5 linked regions of the Homo sapiens genome follow. The protein of the gene in region 5 purifies or fractionates together with the protein of the main gene of each other region. This does not show direct contact. Each region holds a gene or a part of one and is shown on either strand. Other genes may lie near its edges.

What was found.
Region 1: the proteins of RAB6A (region 5) and RIMS1 purify together in Homo sapiens (co-immunoprecipitation; one large-scale study listed by IntAct). This does not show direct contact.
Region 2: the proteins of RAB6A (region 5) and SPRYD7 fractionate together in Homo sapiens (co-fractionation; one large-scale study listed by BioGRID). This does not show direct contact.
Region 3: the proteins of RAB6A (region 5) and NCAPD3 purify together in Homo sapiens (co-immunoprecipitation; one large-scale study listed by IntAct). This does not show direct contact.
Region 4: the proteins of RAB6A (region 5) and RAP1GDS1 purify together in Homo sapiens (co-immunoprecipitation; one large-scale study listed by IntAct). This does not show direct contact.

What each region holds. Positions count from the first base shown.
Region 1 is NC_000006.12:72,249,528-72,253,715, reverse strand, and holds part of RIMS1 (regulating synaptic membrane exocytosis protein 1), read right to left. Parts: intron 3,387-4,188; coding exon 3,256-3,386; intron 2,796-3,255; coding exon 2,624-2,795; intron 2,502-2,623; coding exon 2,348-2,501; intron 956-2,347; coding exon 884-955; intron 1-883. UniProt on the Homo sapiens protein: Rab effector involved in exocytosis. May act as scaffold protein that regulates neurotransmitter release at the active zone.
Region 2 is NC_000013.11:49,919,129-49,923,316, forward strand, and holds part of SPRYD7 (SPRY domain-containing protein 7), read right to left. Parts: intron 2,453-4,188; coding exon 2,350-2,452; intron 1-2,349.
Region 3 is NC_000011.10:134,154,055-134,157,967, reverse strand, and holds part of NCAPD3 (condensin-2 complex subunit D3), read left to right. Parts: coding exon 1-40; intron 41-872; coding exon 873-950; intron 951-3,913.
Region 4 is NC_000004.12:98,418,175-98,422,362, reverse strand, and holds part of RAP1GDS1 (rap1 GTPase-GDP dissociation stimulator 1), read right to left. Parts: intron 3,707-4,188; coding exon 3,572-3,706; intron 2,345-3,571; coding exon 2,219-2,344; intron 1,109-2,218; coding exon 969-1,108; intron 1-968. UniProt on the Homo sapiens protein: Acts as a GEF (guanine nucleotide exchange factor) for the Rho family of small GTP-binding proteins (G proteins) that stimulates the dissociation of GDP to enable subsequent binding of GTP.
Region 5 is NC_000011.10:73,677,690-73,681,345, forward strand, and holds part of RAB6A (ras-related protein Rab-6A), read right to left. Parts: intron 2,032-3,656; coding exon 1,965-2,031; intron 274-1,964; coding exon 209-273; 3' UTR 1-208. UniProt on the Homo sapiens protein: The small GTPases Rab are key regulators of intracellular membrane trafficking, from the formation of transport vesicles to their fusion with membranes.

The sequences.
Region 1 (4,188 bases), on a different chromosome or scaffold from region 5:
TGCCCTCAAATTAAGTACACTGCCATCTGAGAAATTATGTAAATAAAGGGCATATATATCAAGGGCATATATATATATACTGTCTTTAAAAACTGCCTTTAAAATTCATATTTATACATTTTAAGACTGTCTCTTTCATTTCTTCTTATTTGCATATTTACTTCTCCTCTCATTAGTAAATTTTTAAAAAGTATAGAATTAGTGCCAAGAAAGTAAGTCTTTACCACTTGATTTTACACTTTTCTGACAGAAGTCAGATGAGAAACATTTAAACCCTACAACATCACAAAAGTTTTACTAACTTACACAATGACAAAGAGATGTTCACTTCAAATTAATACTTAATCTTTCTTAAACATATTATTGTATTAAAACATATACACACATTCTAGGTATAATCAGTGGGAACACATCACAAAAGCTTTAAAAGTTACAGCCATGCCACATGCAATTTTAAACCCCGCCATGCACCTTTCTCAGTATATTCCATGGAGGGCTACATTATTTTCAGAAATGGTGGAAGGAAAATCATAGAAATGCAAATATAAAACACAGAAAAATGGAATTTTTATTTAATAACCCCATCTTTTCAAAATAAAATTCGTATTTTCACTTACGCTCAGAGCATTGTGAAATAATGATTTGTTTCACTAGTTAGACATGTTTCTACGGAAGAACCTCACTATGGGAATGCTAATTAGTAGAGACTAGTCCATTTAAAACTTTCTTAATAATTTGAAATGTAAGTCACCATGGAATAATATAATACTGATTTCTCTGTGCTATAAATCTTCAGTTTAGTATCCTAAAGAGGTCCGGAAGCTGACAGAGAAAACAAGCAAAGCAGCACAGTGAAGCAGGGTCATGCTCCTCACCCACGCACCTGGAGGAACTACGCCAATACCATCATCAACCTCATAATCTGAGATGTCACTATCACTGATTCGCTGAGATCCTGCACAACAGTAAGGCAAAGAGATACTTCTGTGTCTGGTTGGTTTATGAAACGTAAAGAGCACTGTCAAACTTTTTTTAAAAAGTGAATTGCATTATTACTGAAAACTTATGAAGACTAATACAGTAAACACTGAGCTAATTTTAAAAGAAATGTTTGTTCTCTAAGGATAACATTTTATCAGTATTTTTTTCCTCATTACACCAAAGACATATAGAAACAAGGGGACTTCACAGAATAAGATTTTCAGATTAATTCTTTAATTAAAATATTATACTAAAAGCCTTCAGCACAGTATATACAGTACATTGTTTTCTACACAATTAAGTGCTTTCCTCTGCAGTTCAGAGAGAATAGGGCTGAGTGGAAAGGTTCAGAGACATTTCTTGGCTGGAGCTCTATTCAGCCTATATTAATGAAAAAACATCAGGGCCCTTTATAAAATATTTATGTTTAGCTCCCCAAATTAGTCATTATACTTCATTAAACATTAACTTTGAGGAAATTACTGATCAGGGAAGCATCAACATGAAATATTTAATTATGTGAGAAAAATAATTTAGTTCCAGATTACCAAAATGAGGCTTCTTTCAGCTGTTAACTTAGAAATGTAGTTATGACACAAAAATTACTCAATAAGTACAGAAAAAAATAGCTTTTCCCAATCACTAGATGAATAGCAATAAACATACCTTCTAATATTTTAAACAACATTTCTTATGAATAACTATTAAAATATCTATGAACTGGCTGGGCATGGTGGCTCACACCTGTAATCCCAGCACTTTGGGAGGCCGAGCCGGATGGATCACAAGGTCAGGAGTTCAAGATCAGGCTGGCCAAAATGGTGAAACCCCATCTCTACTAAATATACAAAAATAAATTAGCCAGGCATGGTGGCGCACTTCTGTAATCCTAGCTACTCCAGTGGCTGAGGCAGGAGAATTGCTTAAACCCGGGAGGTGCAGGTTGCAGTGAGCCGAGATCACGCCAATGCACTCCAGCCTGGGCAACAGAGTGAGACTCTCTCTCGGTGGGGGGAGAAAAAATCTTTGAACTATAAAGTTATTAAGACTTCACAGGTGGCAACTCACCAGTGATGACAGAAATTATTCCATCAGTCAATAACCAACAGCTCAATTGGCCCTGTGCAAGAATTTTAATTCAGAGGTTTTTGGCTTGCAGCTCTGCAATTACTCTGCTATGCTATCTACATTATTTTCATTGTGAAAATGTAGAAACAGTTTTGCCAAGTTGCTTCATAAAGATGAACAATTTTCCAGTATTTTGATCTCTAATAAAACATTTAAAAAAAACATCTTGAATTATTAATCACTAATTAGATCATTACAGCATAATTACTTTGTGGCAACTAAAAGGACCTTAACCTACTTTGTAGCTTTTTGCTAGAGCTTTCTCCATGAATATGTCGCCTTGGCATGAAAGGTGATGGCTGAGGCAGAGGTAGTGAAGACTCATCATGTGTCTGAAGTTTATACCAATGCGGTTCATCATCTAAAAGCGCTGTCTCCAATTCTATGAGGATCTGAGAGGGTAATTCTCAAATTAAATCAAGTACCTTTATCAAAACATAATGTAATAGTAATCATAATAAATATCACAAAACTTTATTAACTATTTGACTTGAGTTTTTAAAATATACATCACCTCTCCAAGAAATTCACTTTCTTCTTCTTGCACTCTTGGTTGGTCCCACACAGTTATTTCTAACATTCGTTCTCTAAAATCTCTACGATGTACATGTGAATAGACAAAAGTTTGATTCCATTTTGGTTCTAGTATTTTCTTTACTGTTTTGGTCCTCCTTTTACTTTTATCACTGAAAAATAAGTATGTTTTGTAAATGAAAAAGCAAGTACATGCTGCCATCTACTGTAGTTACATGTAAAACTGCCATTGATATTTATATTATTTTAACTAATAACTCATGGAAAGTCTATAAAAAGATAATAGAGTTTAATAATATTCTAACTTCAGTTACAATATAAGCAGTATTGTAATTATAGGGACACATACAAAGGTACATTCTAAATGATGTGTCGCTATCAAAGACTAATATACCTATAAACAAGGTAATAGATTTTTTTAATTGACAGATTATTTTCAAATATTTCCAACACAATTTCCAACACTTGAGGGACTTCTTTTTTCAGAGATAATGTACTTTTATCTCCTCAGAATTATCTATTATATTTTTTAAAAACATCCCAAAAGAGAAAATTCTACCTTTTCTATTAGTACAGATTTTAAGATTTTTTTTTTCTAAAATTATTCACTACCTTCTATCTGGAAGAAAATACATTTTTACATAGGGATTTCGAGGACGTCCATCTACTCTAGCAGGTAGATCTGTTGCTTGCAGAACATTTACAATCAGCTGGTGTCCCACTTTATCATACCACAACTTCACCTAGGAGCAATGAGGAAAGGAATTATTTGTAAAAATCATGAGGCATTACAATTTTACATAAAACAAAATTCAAGTTATATTTAAATGAGGAAATTTTGAATTACAATATAATGCAATTACAGATATTTCTAAAAACACACCAATTTGAAAGCATAAACACACAGAACTTTACTTTTCTCTTTGAGTACTTTAAACATAACCTACAACTGGCAGGCCTTCAGTGTTACTGTATATTCTCACATATCATTTTATAAAATAAAACTAATAATAATTTTTCCAAAAAACTAAGGGAAGAGGGAGACATAAAATCATTATTATTGTTCTTAAATGTTAAAAATAAGAGTTTGAAGATTATATGTGTCTAAATTATTATAGCGTGACTAAATGCTTTCTCTGGTGTCACAGGTAGTTAAAATTAAAAAAAACAAGAGTTTGGATATTAGGAATAAGAAATACAAAGAATTAGAAGAGATCATAAAACATATTTACTGTGGGCCTATTTTATACAGGCACCGTTTAGTATTTCCTGGTATTTTTTCTCACTTATTTTTTTATTTTTTAGAGACATGGTCTCACTCTGTCACAGGCTGGAATGCAGTGGCATGATCATAGCTCACTGCAGCCTCAAACTGCTGGAACCAACAATTCTCCCAGTTCAGCCTCCCAGGTAGATGGAACCACAGGTGTACATCATCATGTCTGGCCAGTTTTTTAAATTTTTTGTGGAATCGGGGGTCTTGCTATGTTGCCAGGCTAGTCTTGAACTCTTCAGTCTCTCAAAGTGCTGGGATTAAAGGTGTGA
Region 2 (4,188 bases), on a different chromosome or scaffold from region 5:
AAAATAGGCTGGACACGGTGGCTCATGCCTATAATCTCAGCACTTTGGGAGGCCGAGGTGGGCAGATCACTTGAGCTCAGGAGTTCGAGATCAGCCTGGCCAACATGGTGAAACCCCATCTCTAGTAAAAATATAAAAGTTGGCCAGGTGCTCACACCTATAATCCCAGCACTTTGGAAGGCCGAGGCGGGCAGAACAGAAGGTCAAGAGATCAAGACCATCCTGGCCAACATGGTGAAACCCCATCTCTACTAAAAATACAAAAATTAGCTGGGTGTGGTGGTGCGTGCTTGTAGTCCCATCTACTCGGGAGGCTGAGGCAGGAGAATCGCTTGAACCTGGGAGGCGGAGGTTTCAGTGAGCCAAGATCGTGCCACTGCACTCCAGTCTGGCGATGGAATGAGACTCTGTCTCAAAAAAAACAAAACAATACAAAAAAACCCCAAAAGTTAGCTGGGTGTGGTGATACACACCTGTAATCCCAGCTACTCTGGAGGCTGAGGCACGAGAATATCTTGAACCCAGGAGGCGGAGGCAGCAGTGAGCCAAGATCACAACACTGCACTCCAGTCTGGGTGACAGAGTGAGACTCTGTCTCAAAAAAAAAAAAAAAAAAAAGTTGATAGTATAAAAAATAAAGCAGAATGGATTGATAAAGACATTGTGGTTATGTTTTTCTAAAAAAAAAAAAAGAAAGAGACCTTTTTTTCGAGATACAAATAAAACATTTATGAATAAAATTATATATTACCTGGCATTTGCCTCAAAATAACCCAAGGAGGGTAAGTGAAGAACAATAGCAGCATTGGGGGTGGGGGGGTGTAGATGAAACCCGATTGGTTACAAGTTGATAATTGTTTGAAGCTGGCTGATGGGTATATGAGGGTTTATTATACTATTCTTTTTACTTCTGTACATGTTTGGAATTTTCTATAATAAAAATTAAGGTAGGCCGGATGCAGTGGTTCATGCCTGTAATCCCAATAGTGGTGCACACTTGTAGTCCCAGCTACTGGGGTGGCTGAGGTGGGAGGATTGCTTGAACCCAGGAGTTTGAGGCTGCAGTGAGCTGTGATCGGGCCACTGCACTCCAGCCTGGGGGACACAGCAAGACTCTGTCGCAAAACAAAACAAAACAAAACAAAACAAAACAAAAAAACAAAAAATTAAAGTTAAAATTAAAATTCTAAGTCACTATTTCCCTCAGAAGAGCATTAACATTTAAGGAATTTTGTAAGGGTTATTAATGTACAGTCTACATAAAATTCCCATCTCTAATTCCAAAATATTATTTATAATTATGTTTCCTGGCCATGCAATCATTCCCAATGACTTGCAGAAAAAGTTTTCTAAATTCAGTAAAGCTTTTTGAAACTTTCTAAAACATAAAACTACATGTTGAAAAAGGGAGTACGGTTATTGCATATTTAAGTGTAATCATTGTATTTAGCAAGTTTATTTTAATACATGGGGAACAGAAACTATCCTTAATCCTGCAAAGTGGGATTGTAATATCCTACCGACTACAATCCATATAAAAAGGTCCTTATGGCTGGGCACGGTGACTTATACCTGTAATCCCAGCACTTTGGGAGGTTGAGGTGGGTGGATCATCTGAGGTCAGGAGTTTAAGACCAGCCTGGCCAACATGGTGAAACCCCATCTCTACTAAAAATACAAAAAGTAGCCAGGCGTGGTGGCAGGCACCTGTAATCCCAGTTACTCGGGAGGCTGAGGCAGGAGAATCGCTTGAACCCAGGAGGCGGAGGCTGCAGTGAGCTGAGATCGTGTCACTGCACTCCAGCCTGGGTGACAGAGTGACACTCCGTTTCAAACAATAAATAAATAAATAAAATAAAAAGGTCCTTATTAACAATGTGTCCAGATTTCTAGATGATAGCTATAAAAGTAACATACACGCTGATATGGTTTGGCTGTGTCCCCACCCAAATCTCGTCTTGAATTATAGTTCCCATTATCCCCATGTGTTGTGGAGGGACCCAGTGGGAGGTAATTGAATCATGGGGGTGGTTACACTCATGCTGTTCTTGTAAAAGTGAGTGAGTTTTCACAAGATCTGATGGTTTCATAAGGGGCTTTCCCCAACTTCGCTCAATCTTCTCCTTCCTATTGCCATGTGAAGAAGGATGTGTTTGCTTCCCCTTCCGCCATGATTGTAAGTTTCCTGAGGCCTCCCCAGCTCTGTGGAACTGTGAGTCAATTAAACCTCTTTCCTTTATAAATTACCAAGTCTTGGGTATGTCTTTATAGCAGCATGAAAACAGACTGATACACACACCAAACAAGTTAATATGTATGTAATAATACATTAGAAATATTTTTGCTTACCATAAACAACTGGATACACTGTCCCTCGTATACCTGATGCTGGACAATGCATGTTTTTTCCATTCAAGTATACATTTAATTCGACATGGTCATAAGTAATACCCTAGGAAGGAAAAAACAGAAACGTTCCATAAAAGCTGAGCCGTCAGAAAGCATTGACTGGGAAGTATGGAAACACAAAAAGCTAAGCATAGGCTGACAACAATTTTCATTAAGGGTTGACAATTTGGTAGAATCCTACTTGAACTGAGCTAAAAAAATGAGTAGTGATTATGAGGGGGGATAAAGTCAGGTAACATCCCAAGAGTCCACATTAGAGGTAAAACAAAGCCAACAGTTTAAATCCTAGAATTATATTTGTATAATCTGGATTTTATATTTTGAATGCTAAGATAATATAAGTACTACATACCATGAATAGAGAAACCTTTTACACTCATACAGAAAACGCTGCTCTTTCTCTACAGAATTTGATCTAAAGAAGGAAAAACAATGAGGTTTTTTTCACTGTCAGGACTTACTACCTGTCACTGTTTTCAAATTATGAAGAAACGTCTCTATACATTTTATTTCCAGGAAGAAATAACACATTTCTACATCTCTTTACTCTGGTTTCAAATGTGTCAAGTGTATTATCAAGGAAAAGCTGGTGTTCACAACTGAATAAAATTGGTAATTAGTTTCAAGTTAAAAAACAAAAATAGTAGCTCAAATGATTTAAAAAACAATGTAATAAAATTACTCGGTACACTATTGATGGAAAAAAATCACAATTAGTGATATTAATAATTATTGTTAAAATAATTATTTTATAATTATATAAATAAAATATTTATTTGTATAAATATAAATTATTTATATAAATAAATAAAAGGCTAGAAAAGACTTAGCCCATGTTATAAACCAATAGTGCTACTATTCTAGGCAGTTCATATTTACTCATTTAATCCTCACAACAAGACAGTATTACTATCCCCATTTTACAGATGAAGCTAAAGCACAGAAAGATTAAGTAATTTACCTAAGGTTGCACAGCTAGGAAGTGGAAAAGCTGTGATTTAAATCCATACAGTATGGTTTCAGAATCCTTGCTCTTAATCACAATACCTCTCTCTAAATCACCATGCCTCTCTTTAAACACTTGCTCTTAATCACCATATCTCTCTTTAAAACTTTATACAATAGCTACTAACTGATAACAAAAAGAGATCTTTCCCTTGAAAGACAGCAGAGATCTTTCAATAGAGAAGTCATCATAGACCAAGAAGCAAACCACTTCAAGGATTTCAGGATTTCTGACTGTGGATACATTCTATCAAGTTAAAAGCTTTTTAGAGGTAAAAAAAAAAAATTTTATAGATCATCTTAGTCTTAAATTCTCTCTCTTTACAAGCAAGACAGCAAAAGCCCAGAGAAGCTAATGTGGTAAGTGGTATGAAAGATTCTCAATTCTTAGCAAAGCCAGGGTTAACTTAAACAATTATTAATAATTAAGGAATACTGAGAAAGATAAATAGTACATAGATTGCCTTTGCTTCGCTTTAGTTTATGTCTTTAGATAATAGTAATAAAGCTAGCTGATGGCTGGGATTCACTTTTCTAATGAAAAAGTCTGTTTTCATTTTAAAAAACAAAAACTTAATTACATAAAAAAGAAAGTATGTTACTCTCATTATGGGACTACCAGAAATCTAGCAGTTCAGATCAGTGAGGTTGTAATCCAGGCACTTTCATCCCCCAGTGGCCGATTGCAAACAAACAAGTTTGTTTTTTGTTTTTTTTTTGAGACAGAGTCTCGTTCTGTCACCCAGGCTGTAGTGCAATGGCATGATCTTGGCT
Region 3 (3,913 bases), about 60 Mb from region 5:
ACTTTAAATTCTGGAAGCCCAGAAAAAACGTGCAGTCAGGGTAAGCCTTATGTTTGGTGCCAGACACAGTAGAGCATTTACAGATGAAAACACAGAACAAGCTACTTCTTATTCCTTTCAAAGCGGTGTGTTTTCTTATCTTTAAAACAAATAACGTTAATTGGGCTTTTAGGATCATGGGTAGTAAAACAATGCATATTTATTCTAGGAGATTTGGAAAATAGAGTGAAATATGAAACTCACCCATAGCAGTGAGGCATTCCTTCCTCCAGCTATTCTGTTCCTCTTACACACACGTGTTTTGTTTTGTTTATGGAATTGTGATCTGTGCGTGCATTGTTTTATGACCTGTTTCCCTGCATTCTTAAGTCAGATGTAGTAGATGTAGTAGACAGCTTCCATGAACTTTTCTTTCCAACCTTTGCTTTCAGTGGCTTTATAGCATTGTGGCTGTGGAAATAACTGATTTATTACTATCCTGTTCTTTGAAATGTTGATTTTCAATTTTTCCATACAAATACTATCACAGTAAACATCCTTGTACATATAGCCTTGTATGTATGTAATCCTTGGGATTAATTCCCAGCAGTCAAAGGCCATGGATATTTAAAAACTTTGGATAGTGTCAAACTGTCCTCTATCACTTATGCCAAGTTAGACTCTTTTATTTTTTTGAATCCTAATGAGAATGGACATTTTTTCTCATGTTTATCATTTATTTGTATTTCTTCCTGAATTGCCTCTTTATAAGAAAATTGTAAACACTAGTGATTTTGACTTTACGTCTTGCAGATATGTTTTCTCATGTGGTTGTTTTGCTCTTCGTTATTGTTTGGGGGTATTTCTGGATAGCAGCACCTTTTCTGTTCTAGTGTCTTCATACAGTTTGGAGCAAGAGTCGAATGGCGAGATTGAGCACGTGACCAAGCGGGCCATCAGCACCCCCGAGAGTGAGTAACTGATCGGAACACGTGGGCTTCTCCTCAGTCTCTCCTGCATTCGTGATGTGTTTGCTAGAGTCGCAGTAAAACTCCTTCCGGTGCAGGATAGTTCTGATGGTCAGAACCATGAGTGCATTGCTGAGGTGGAGTATTTCACAGTGACCACGGTCGCTTGATCCATGAGCACTGACCGAGTATGTTGTTCCAGTGTCGTTACATTCAGTCAGTCAAACACCACAGTGGCCCGCGGAGCAGACAATGCCGTTGAGGCACAGGTAGGTTGGGTGACTGACCCAGTGGTGCCTTCTGGAGGCGGCCCTCCGTGTCTCTGGGCTGTCCGGGTGCACTGGGCGCTGCTGGGTGGGCCTGCTCCCAGGGCGGGCAGACGTCAGCACCAGCAGGTACCATGCACGCTCTGCAACTGCCAAGACCAGAGACCCGGGGACCCCTGCTCGGAGCCTGTGTCTCATTCCCCTCCATGTTTTTTCCTACTGTTTGTGCTTTTCCTTTGATTTCAAAACAGAGGTGAGTTAGGAGAGTTGAGTATTCTTTTCCTATTATCTTGTGTGATAGCTTCATATTGTGTCAAACCTCATAAAAACCATTATTTTGAGAAAACTCTTACAGGAAGAAGAAATGCTTCCTGTCCTAAATCTGTGGAGTAGTGGCTAGGCCCTGCCGCCGTGTCCCTGTGTGCCCCTCGCTCTGCGCCCGGCTGTGCACAGTGCCCTCAGCAAGCTGCATCCAGCCCCGCTCGTCCCTGGCCATTCCACTCCTCACTGTTTCCACAGACCACAGTGCCTGGAACCTGGGAGGTGTCAGAGATCTCCTCCCGGAGACTTCTGGGAGGGCAGAGCTGGGCGCTGAGCCCAGGCCTTCTGGTCCCAACTCTTGTGCCCCTTCTCCAGCCTGTCTCCTAGTCCTGACTGCAGGGGAAGATGAGAGCGTGCTAAGGTGCTCTTCCTGGTAACAGAGCAGCAAGGTGTCCTGCCGTTCGTTTAGTCACTGCTTCAGTCAGCTCATGTGTGTGGAGCACCTGCTGTATTCTAGCTACTTGCTTGTTTGGTTCTGTCACACTGATGCTGTGATCTCTTAGAATAGTTAACAGGTTAGAGGTAATTTTCATCCAGGTCCCCCTTTGAAGGGAGTTTATCCCACCCCCACCCTCAGACGACAACCGAATCATGACGGCATTTGTCATTAAAGGCAGTGGGTAATTTGGGATCCTGCGTCGTGGACAGGTGCGATGTTCTGTGTGTTAGAGCTTGCTGTGTGTTCGATGTTCCTGGCTCAGGAGTGCCAAGAGCTTCTATTTTGGCAGTGAGGTGCCATATGCTGAAGAAACGGGGAGAACGCATCTCATTTTCGTTGTGCTCATCCTGAGTCCCTGATGTCAGTGTTGGGTTGTTTCCTAGCAGCTCGTGTTTCTCCACAGGGCAGCCTGGCGTGGAGGGTTCATGCCGCCCTCATCTGCCTGTGTGGAGCCACGCTTTGTGCTGGAAATCAGGCGCCCGGTGTCATTGAGTTGGTAGAGTACTTGTTCTTGCTCCAGGCTCTTGGACATAATATTCCTGCTGATGCAGTCTCTGTCCGTCTCTCTTTATACTGAACCAGGAAGAAATGCCTGGAGGTCTCCCCTTCCTGGGAGAACTGTTAGATAGTTTAAAAGCACTCAGTTCTGTTTTCTCTGTGGTTTATACGTCCAGATTCTTTTTGGCAACTTTTAGTTTAGGTGGGGGAGACTGTCAGGAAGTGTCTCAGCTCTTCAAAGCTGGCAGGAAAGATGCCACCCAGTTCAGCACCAATTCACAGTGGCTTTGCTAAATGGAAATGAAAATTAGTCAATTTTCAGAGCGAGGATTTTAACTGAAAATCTGTGGGGGTTTTAGCAAGTCCCTGTTACTGTTACCATTCGGGTGGCACAGACGCTGCTGCCTTCGATTCTACGCACAGTGCATGGGGGACGTCAGAGCCCCCGCACCCGGGCTTCTGTAAAGATGGGAGACTAATTTCCTGGAGTGCATATGGGCTTCCAAACAGGAAGAGCAGTGTGTGTGTCAGGAAGGGAATTTCATGTGACAGCACAAGGAGAGACTTCACCGAAACAGAATAAGCAGATCTAGCAGTGATGAGGAATTCTCTACCATCGTCTATTAGTGACACTCAAGTAGCCATCGGGTACACAGCTGCAGTGCGCTGATGAGCTTTGAACTGTAAATGGGAAGACACAGTCCATACTCAAGACACCAAGTGGAGAACGGGGAGCGCTCTGAAGCTGCCTCCTCGCATGTGCTTGCAGAAGGGCAGCAGGTTCAGTGGTACCAGCAAGCAGCTGCCCAGCCCGTGCTGTTCCCGGGAGTGTGCTGGTGGCAGCTTATGCACTGGGTACAGCACCACCCAGGAGGGGCGAGGCTGCACCACCCAGGAGGGGCGAGGCTGCACCACCCAGGAGGGGCGAGGCTGCACCACCCAGGAGGGGTGAGGCTGCACCACCCGGGCCTCCAAGACAGGGTGGCATGTGTAGGCAGATGGGGCGGTGGGGGGGGGGGTGCAGAGAAGCATAATGTGCAGACAGGGCCTGCTGAGGAAGAGGACGCAGGAGGGTGGACGTGTTTGTGCACGCGTGCACCTGAGCCTAACAGGTGAGTCTGTAAAGGCAGCTTGGGACCAGCTGAGACTGAGGGTGGACTTCAGGCTCTCCTAGGAACACAGCGATTGAGGTGTCTTGAAGCAGGGCAGTAAATTTACCAGCTTCTTGATGAAACATAACTCCAGTGATGCAGGGATGATACTGCTAATAAATGACAGTGGCTGCTAACATCTCTTGAGCACTGCCCTTGCAGCCAGCACGATGCTAAGCACTCAACGTGGATAACCTCATGTAGTCCTGGCAGCCCCCCAATGAGGTAGCTATGTTTTTATACCCACTTAAGAGATGAAGAAACCTGAGGGTCTCAGAGCAGCTCACACAG
Region 4 (4,188 bases), on a different chromosome or scaffold from region 5:
GCCTGTAATCCCAGCTACTCTGGAGGCTGAGGCAGGAGAATTGCTTGAACCCAGGAGGTGGAGGTTGCAATGAGCTGAGATTGTGCCACTGTACTCCAGCCTGAGCGAGAGAGCAAGACTCAGTCTCAAAAAAGAAAAAGAAAACAGTATTTTATTTTATTTTGAGACGGAGTCTTGCTCTGTCACCCAGGCTGGAGTGCAGTGGTGCAATCTCGGCTCTCTGCAAGCTCCGCCTCCCGGGTTCACGCCATTCTCCTGCCTCAGCCTCCCGAGTAGCTGGGACTACAGGTGCCCGCCACCACGCCCAGCTAATTTTTTTTTGTATTTTTAGTAGACCCGGGGTTTCACTATGTTATCCAGGATGGTCTTGATCTCCTGACCTCATGATCTGCCCACCTCAGTCTCCCAAAGTGCTGGGATTACAGGTGTCAGCCACCACGCCCAACAAGAAAACAGTATTTAAAAAATTTAAAAATCATATAATCTAGATACTAAATCAGCTGCTGAACTGCTGGCCTGGGTACTCACTATTGTGATCTTTAAAATAGCTCATTTGTTCATTTATTGGTTATCTACCATGTGCCAGACAGCGGCACAGCCAGCCACAAGAATGGATTTTTTTCTAACTCTGTGAGCTCTGGACATCATATACTATCTAGGTACCATTTAATTTCTAAATATCAGTAGGCTGCATGGTCAATGCCTGGCACAAAGAATGTTTGACACTGATGCTGATAACGGTGGTGGTAAAAGTAATAACAACAATAGCAGCAGCAACAACAGCAACCCCCATTTACCGAGTGTTTCCTATATCCCATGTATCAGCTAAGCACATTATATACATGATCTCACTGAATCTTCACAATACTTTCAGGTAAATATTATCCCAGTTGTTAGGACCTACAATGCTGGGTTTCTGAAAAAGACACTCTGAAGTTTTCTAGTGAACAGTTTCCTCTGGAACTTACTTTTGATTTACTGTGTCGTATAAGGGCAGACAGCAGTCTGTTTGACTCCCCCATCACACCAGCATGATCTTTGGCTTCACACCATTCCACCAAACGCTCCACTAACTTAACATTCTTTCCCAATTGTTCAGCAGCTTCTGCTATAGGAAAGAAGGCAAACCAAGGAATGAATCACTAACAGACAATCAGTTGAAATAATTCGTACAGATTTGAGAGTGTGAAGGACGTCTAAAAAAACACAGCACGACAATTTCATTAAAGCTAGAACTGCAAATATTCCTTATGTGATGGGCTATTTGCCTTCTTCTGTAACACTGTGAAATTTTATAGAAAATACAACAACAAATGACTTCATACTCTTTTGGTTAAGCCTGCTAGTCTGTTAGTGCTCTGGCGGACTATAATGCAGGGTTCTTAGAAAGACTCTATGCAATCAATATAGAAAAGGGTTTAAAATTTAGAAATAAGTAAATAAACATAATTCATTCCTAGGAGTGGTTCTGACTGCTGTTTCTGCAAACAGAAAAATGCTCTCCCTGTCTGGAAGACAAATTTAAAAAATTTTTGACTGTCACAATAATGAAATTTGATTTCAAAGCCAAGGTAAAAATGGGTATAGAATGCCAAAACACAACACCCCCTGCCGAAACTGATGAATAAAGCAACCTAAAACCAGGACTATAAGTACTAATAAGGAGAGATATGGTATAATTTCTATTTAAAGTCAATTATAGGCTGGACATGGTGGCTCACACCTGTAATCCCAGCACTTTGGGAGGCTGAAGTGGGTGGATCGCTTGAGGCCAGGAGTTCAAGAGCAGCCTGAGCAACAAGCCCCATGTCTAGTGAAATTCCAAAACAATTAGCCAGGAGTTGTGGAGCATGCCTGTAATCCTAGCTACTCAGGAGGCTGAGGCAGGAAAATTGCTTGAACCCAGGAGGCGGAAGTTGCGGTGAGCTGAGGTCGCACCACTGCACTCCAGCCTGGGTGACAGAACAAGACTCTGTCTCAAAAATAAATAAATAAACAAATAAATAAATAAATAAATAAATAAATAATATGTATAAATAAATAATTATAACAAGCATAAAAATTAACAAATGGAGTTCCAAAACCAACTTTTAAATCTTTTATTTGCTATTTTTTATGATTACATAATCCTAAAAGCTAAAAACAAGTCCTTTTTCAACTAGAGGCACATTAAGACTATCATATGAAAAATGCAAGTTGGGGAAAACATTTCTTTTACCTTGTGCATCTATTAACATTCTTAATGTTCCCAGAAGTTTGAACTGAACAGGAGGCATTTCAGATTTAAGAAATTTCAAAACTGCCTCTGTGACCCCAGCTGATAACATCTTTGCTTTATTTATAACTGGAGAAAAAGAGAGACTATGGTTAAAATGGTATTAGCATTCCTGTTGATAAACATTCAATTCAATACAGGTTTATTAAGTATCTTTAAGATCCATGTTTTATTTTTCCATTTAGAAACAATCTTGTCACTTTTTTGTCAATTTTAAGAATGGAATTCAGTTGTTTATGTGTGTGTCCGTATCCTATTTGTGTATAAGCGGATAACAGACAATATAATAATTTTTATGACAGTATCATGGCTTTTTAGATCCAATCCAAAACACTTACTTACATAGTTTGTAAAGGAAATCTGAAAATGTTACCCTCTTACAACAAAAAGCACAATTCCGTTTTTGATCCAACTGTGTTAATATAAATGTTATAGACATTAATAAATGTTACTATCCTATGTAAACCAAATGAATTCAAATGGATTGGATCATCATGTAATTGTACTATTTCATCTAATCAGAAATTTATTTTTAGAAAGTAGGATAAAAGAATAGTTTTAACTATCTTTTGTTGTATTTTCCATAATACAGTGATTTCATGACTTCCAAAGGCACATTAAGGCTATTTTAAAAAAATTGTACATCTGCTTATAGAAAAACAACAACTGAAAGTCATTCTTGAGTGGACTCTGTTAATTGATGTCATTATTCTACCTCAACTAAAGATGCCTAAGGCCTGGTGCAGTAGCTCTCACCTGTAATCCCAGCACTTTAGGAGGCAAAGGTGGGTGGACTGCTTGAGCCCAGGAGTTCAAGACCAGCCTAGGCAACATAGTGAGATCCTGTTTCTACAAAAAAAAAAAATCAGCTGGGCATGGTGGCACATGCCTGTAGTCCCTGTTCCTCAGGAGGCTGAGGTGGGAGGATAACTTGAGCTCAGAAGGTAGAGGCTGTGGTGAGCCAGGACTGCGTCACTGCACTCTAGCCTGGCTGACAGAGTGAGACCCCATCTCAAACTTAAAAAAGCTTAACTATAAAACATGATGAAAATCTAACAGTTCGCAAAAGGTAACAGGATATCTGAATGAAGGCAAAGATTATTCTTGTACAGTCTCACAAAACTTATTTAACATATGATCTCCATTTATTAGCATGAAAAAATGTGAACAATGTGAAGACTATTTTTTTTTAAATTTTCTTCATCAGAGCAGGTTCACAAATCACATACAGTTAATAGCTTCCCCAAATGATGGATTTTATTTTGTACACAGCTGCCTTCTATTCTTAAGTCTTACCTGGAATGGCCAGGTTTCTGAGGGCACTTAGTGCTGCATGCTGTACTGTTACATTTCCATCTTCTACATGTCTGTCCAGTAAATCCATAAGTTTTTCTACAATCCCATTGTCTACCATATGAATACAATTTGCATCTGAAAAAAAAAACACACATCTTTTTCTTCCTCTTTAAAATATCTATAAATACTTTATAATACTGATGTCTGGCTATTATCTACATTAGGGAAAATGGAGCTATACAATAAAATGAATTCCAAATCTTTCTCCCATCAGATTTATAGGTTTTTCTGTTTACTGAGTGAGAAGTGTTAAAAAAAATTCTTAAACTAGATAAAAGTTTTAAAATCAGAAAATTACCAGAAAAATCTTTAGTTTAGAGCCAGATAATATATCAGAAGTAGAAACACATGGTTAGAATGTCCAATATTTTTCATTTATTGTGATGTATGCTTGTGTTCTCCCAATGTTACAGTGATAGTACTCTACCTTTTGCTATCATGGCTGATACCTAAATTATTTTTCAAACACTTACAAAGCGGAGAGAATATTATAATGAACCACTATTTACCCCATATCTAGTTTCAATAATTATCCATATTATGCCACTCTTACCTCC
Region 5 (3,656 bases):
TTTGTAAAATATAAATAATGAAGACACTGACTTTTGTTGTGCTTGTGAAGCTAATAGATCATCTCCACGAGACAGGCAGCAATGATGAATTGCAATACGTTATTACTGAAGGGAAAAGGTTCAAGCCAATATTCACACTGCAGTCAATGAAAGAGTAAGGGGGCCAAAGCAGTGAGCTTCTGAAGAAGGTTGAAGATGACATGGGAGATTAGCAGGAACAGCCTCCTTCACTGACTGGTTGCTCCTGAGGCTTTTCCAGTTTTATGTCAATCACTGAAACAAAAGTTAAGAAGCCATAAATGGGAAAGTACAATTTCAATTCTTCCAAACACTAGCATTTCTGGGATGGCCCTTATATTCCTATCTGTCTTCAGAGCCTACACACTCACTATTTTCTACATAGCCGCCTCACCATATAAGGTGCTCAAATGGAATAAACTTGTTTATATCTACTATATGCAACAAGGGTCAGAATGAGGTACAAGCTCTATTTATGGGTATCTATCCTAAGGAACTTATTCTACAGTGGCAAGAAGTGATATGAAGATGATGTTCCTCATAGAATCATCTATAATATAAATCTGAAAATAGCCTACAAGATAGTTCCAACAGCAGAGGAAACATTTAGTAAATAATGGGACTTCAGGCCGGGTGCCGTGGCTCATGCCTGTAATCCCAACACTTTGGGAGGTTGAGGCAGGCCGAACACCTGAGGTCAGGAGTTCAAGACCAGCCTGGCCAACATGGCGAAACCCCATCTCTACTAAAAATATAAAAATTAGCTGGGCATGGTGGCTCATGCCTGTATTCCCAGCTACTTGGGAGGCTGAGGCAGGAGAATCACTTGAATTCAGGAGGCAGAGGTTGTGGTGAGCTGAGATTGCGCTGCTGCACTCCAGCCTGGGCGACAGAATGAGACTCCATCTCAAAAAAAAACGGCGGTGGGCGCGGGGACATACTTCAACTCAATAGAACATTTTTTGTTGTTGTTGTTGTTTTGTTTTTGAAACATATTATGTTTTATGTTGTTGTTGTGTTTTTTTTTTTGGGGGGGGAATGGAGTTTCGATCCTGTTGCCCAGGCTGGAGTGCAATGGCGTGATCTCGGCTCACTGCAACCTCTGCCTCCTGGGTTCAAGCAATTCTCCTGCCTCAACCTCCTTAGTAGCTGGGATTACAGGCGTGCACTATCACGCCCAGGTAATTTTTTTATTTTTAGTAGAGACAAGGTTTCTCCATGTTGGTCAGGCTGGTCTTGAACTCCCGACCTCAGGTGATCCACCTGCCTTGGCCTCCCAAAGTGCTGGGATTACAGGCATAAGCCACCGCGCCCGGCCTGTTTTATGTTTTTTATGAAAACATATAACATTTACAAGTGGGAAGAGCTGAATACAAAGTGCTACAAACTATATGGCTTAATAAAAATGCCTGCATATGGAAATACACTAGAAGGTGAATATGAAACACTGAAAACATCAAATTAAAAATCCTTAGAATTAACTAATATTAGATGTCCCAATCCTTGGAAATGAACTAATATTATGTCCTGTTTCTGAAAGCAGAGGCTACAATAAAGCTCCACTCTATTTCTTGCCTGTGTCAAGTAGAAAGCTCAAGTGTTAGAAAAAGAAATGAAAATTTGATATTCCATGAGGAAAAAGCCTAGAGTCAATGGGACTCAAAATGAAGAGGCAAGGACACAGGGATTCTAAGAGTTTCCTGCTCATTTAAAAGCAAGCAAACAAACACAAAACCTCTCACTGATTAACAACGAGAAGCAGGCTGCAAAGGGTGCACTTGGATAACCAGACCTCATTTGCTATAGAAAACAAATGAATTTCTATGCCTTTAAGTCATCAGTTCCTGGTTGTAAAAGGCAATGGCACAATATTCTTTAGCCAAGCAAGCAGGGCTCTAAAGACTAGTGTTAATAATGAAAAATTTCCAATGAAATAAAAAGGATACTATCTTCTCTGCTTCTGTCCTGTGTGCTTTCCATTCCCGGCAAAGCTGCTGCTACACGTCGAAAGAGCTGTGGGAAAGAGAGAAAAGTGATAACTGAGAGGGAACATTTAGCAAAGGGTACTGAGGTTTATGATCACTGTACAGTGAGCTGTCTAATGCTGGGCGCAGTGGCTCACACCTGTAATCCCAGCACTTTGGGACCCACCCGAGGTGGGCAGATCACTTGAGGTCAGGAGTTTGAGACCAGCTTGGGCAACATGGTGAAACTCTGTCTCTACAAAAAAAAACACAAAAATTAGCCAGGCGTGGTGGCACACGCCTATAGTCCTAGGTACTGGAGAGGCTGAACCTGGAGGACTGCTTCAGCTCAGGAAGTGGAGGCTGCAGGGAGCTGAGATCACGCCACTGCACTCCAGCCCGGGCAACAGGGCGAGACTCTGTCTTTAAATAAATAAATAAATAAATAATAAAATAAAATGTCTATTCATTCTATAAACGAGTATTATATAAAAAGCAATATACCAAATACAAAGAGGTATAAAGACATGATTCCTGTTTTTTTAACTGGTGGGATAAGACAAAAGTAAACAGCTATGAAATAAGCAGCAAAAATGTCATTTGAATAATAAAGTATTACAGAAACGCAGAAAAAGGACAGATCATTCATTTAACAAAACTGTATAGTAGCATTCCTATCTTTCATATAAAGAGTGAGGTTCAGGGCTGGACGCGGTGGCTCACGCCTGTAATCCCAGCACTTTGGGAGGCCAAGGGGTGTGGATCACGAGGTCAGGAGTTCAAGACCAGCCTGGACATGGTGAAACCCTGTCTCTACAGAAAATACAAAAATGAGCTGGGTGTGGTGGCACATGCCTGTAATCCCAGCTACTTGGGAGACTGAGGCAGGAGAATCACTTGAACCTGGGAGGCGGAGGTTGCAGTGAGCCAAGATCACGCCACTGCATTCCAGCCTGGGCGACACAGCAAGACTTCTTCTTGGCGGGGGTGTGGGGGGGAGAGTTAGGTTCTGAAGTCAGTGTATAATATATTGTGAAACTCAGTCCAGTCAAAATTATCCTTCATCGTTCATTAGAAAAGCACTATGTTAGAGATTAATACACCACCCCTCAAGTCCAACACAGCTGGCTTTTCTTCCATCATTGGAATGAGTGTCAGTGGGAGTGGCTGGCTTGTGTTTGAGGTATGAAGCTATGAAAAGTTATCTTCAACAGGAGAAACGCACTCAAGCCTGGTGAGATGTTTACTTTTGAGAGGCATATGAGAACAGATACTGGAACAACAGTTTATACTTCTTATATTGTCCCAATCTTAGGCATACACCCACTGGGTACAACAGCCAGTGAAACTGCCTGATTATTTCAATTATTTATCTTTTAATTAAGCACACAGTGTAAACCCATAAATTAAATGCATATGTGCTGTAACTCCTTTGTACCAAGTACTTGCTTACTTGAGGCAGTGTATCAGGCAGCCTCATTCTGTGTCTTTGAGACACAGAAATGAACAAGAAAAAACAGTTTTTTAATTCAAGGAGCTCAAAATCTGGTAAAGGAGATACTCAAACAATTCTTTATATTACAATGTGATGCTACAAACAAAGTAAGTTTAAAATGCTCTGAGAATACAGATGTAACAAGGTCCAACTCAGGAGGCTGAAAAAAATCTTTTAGG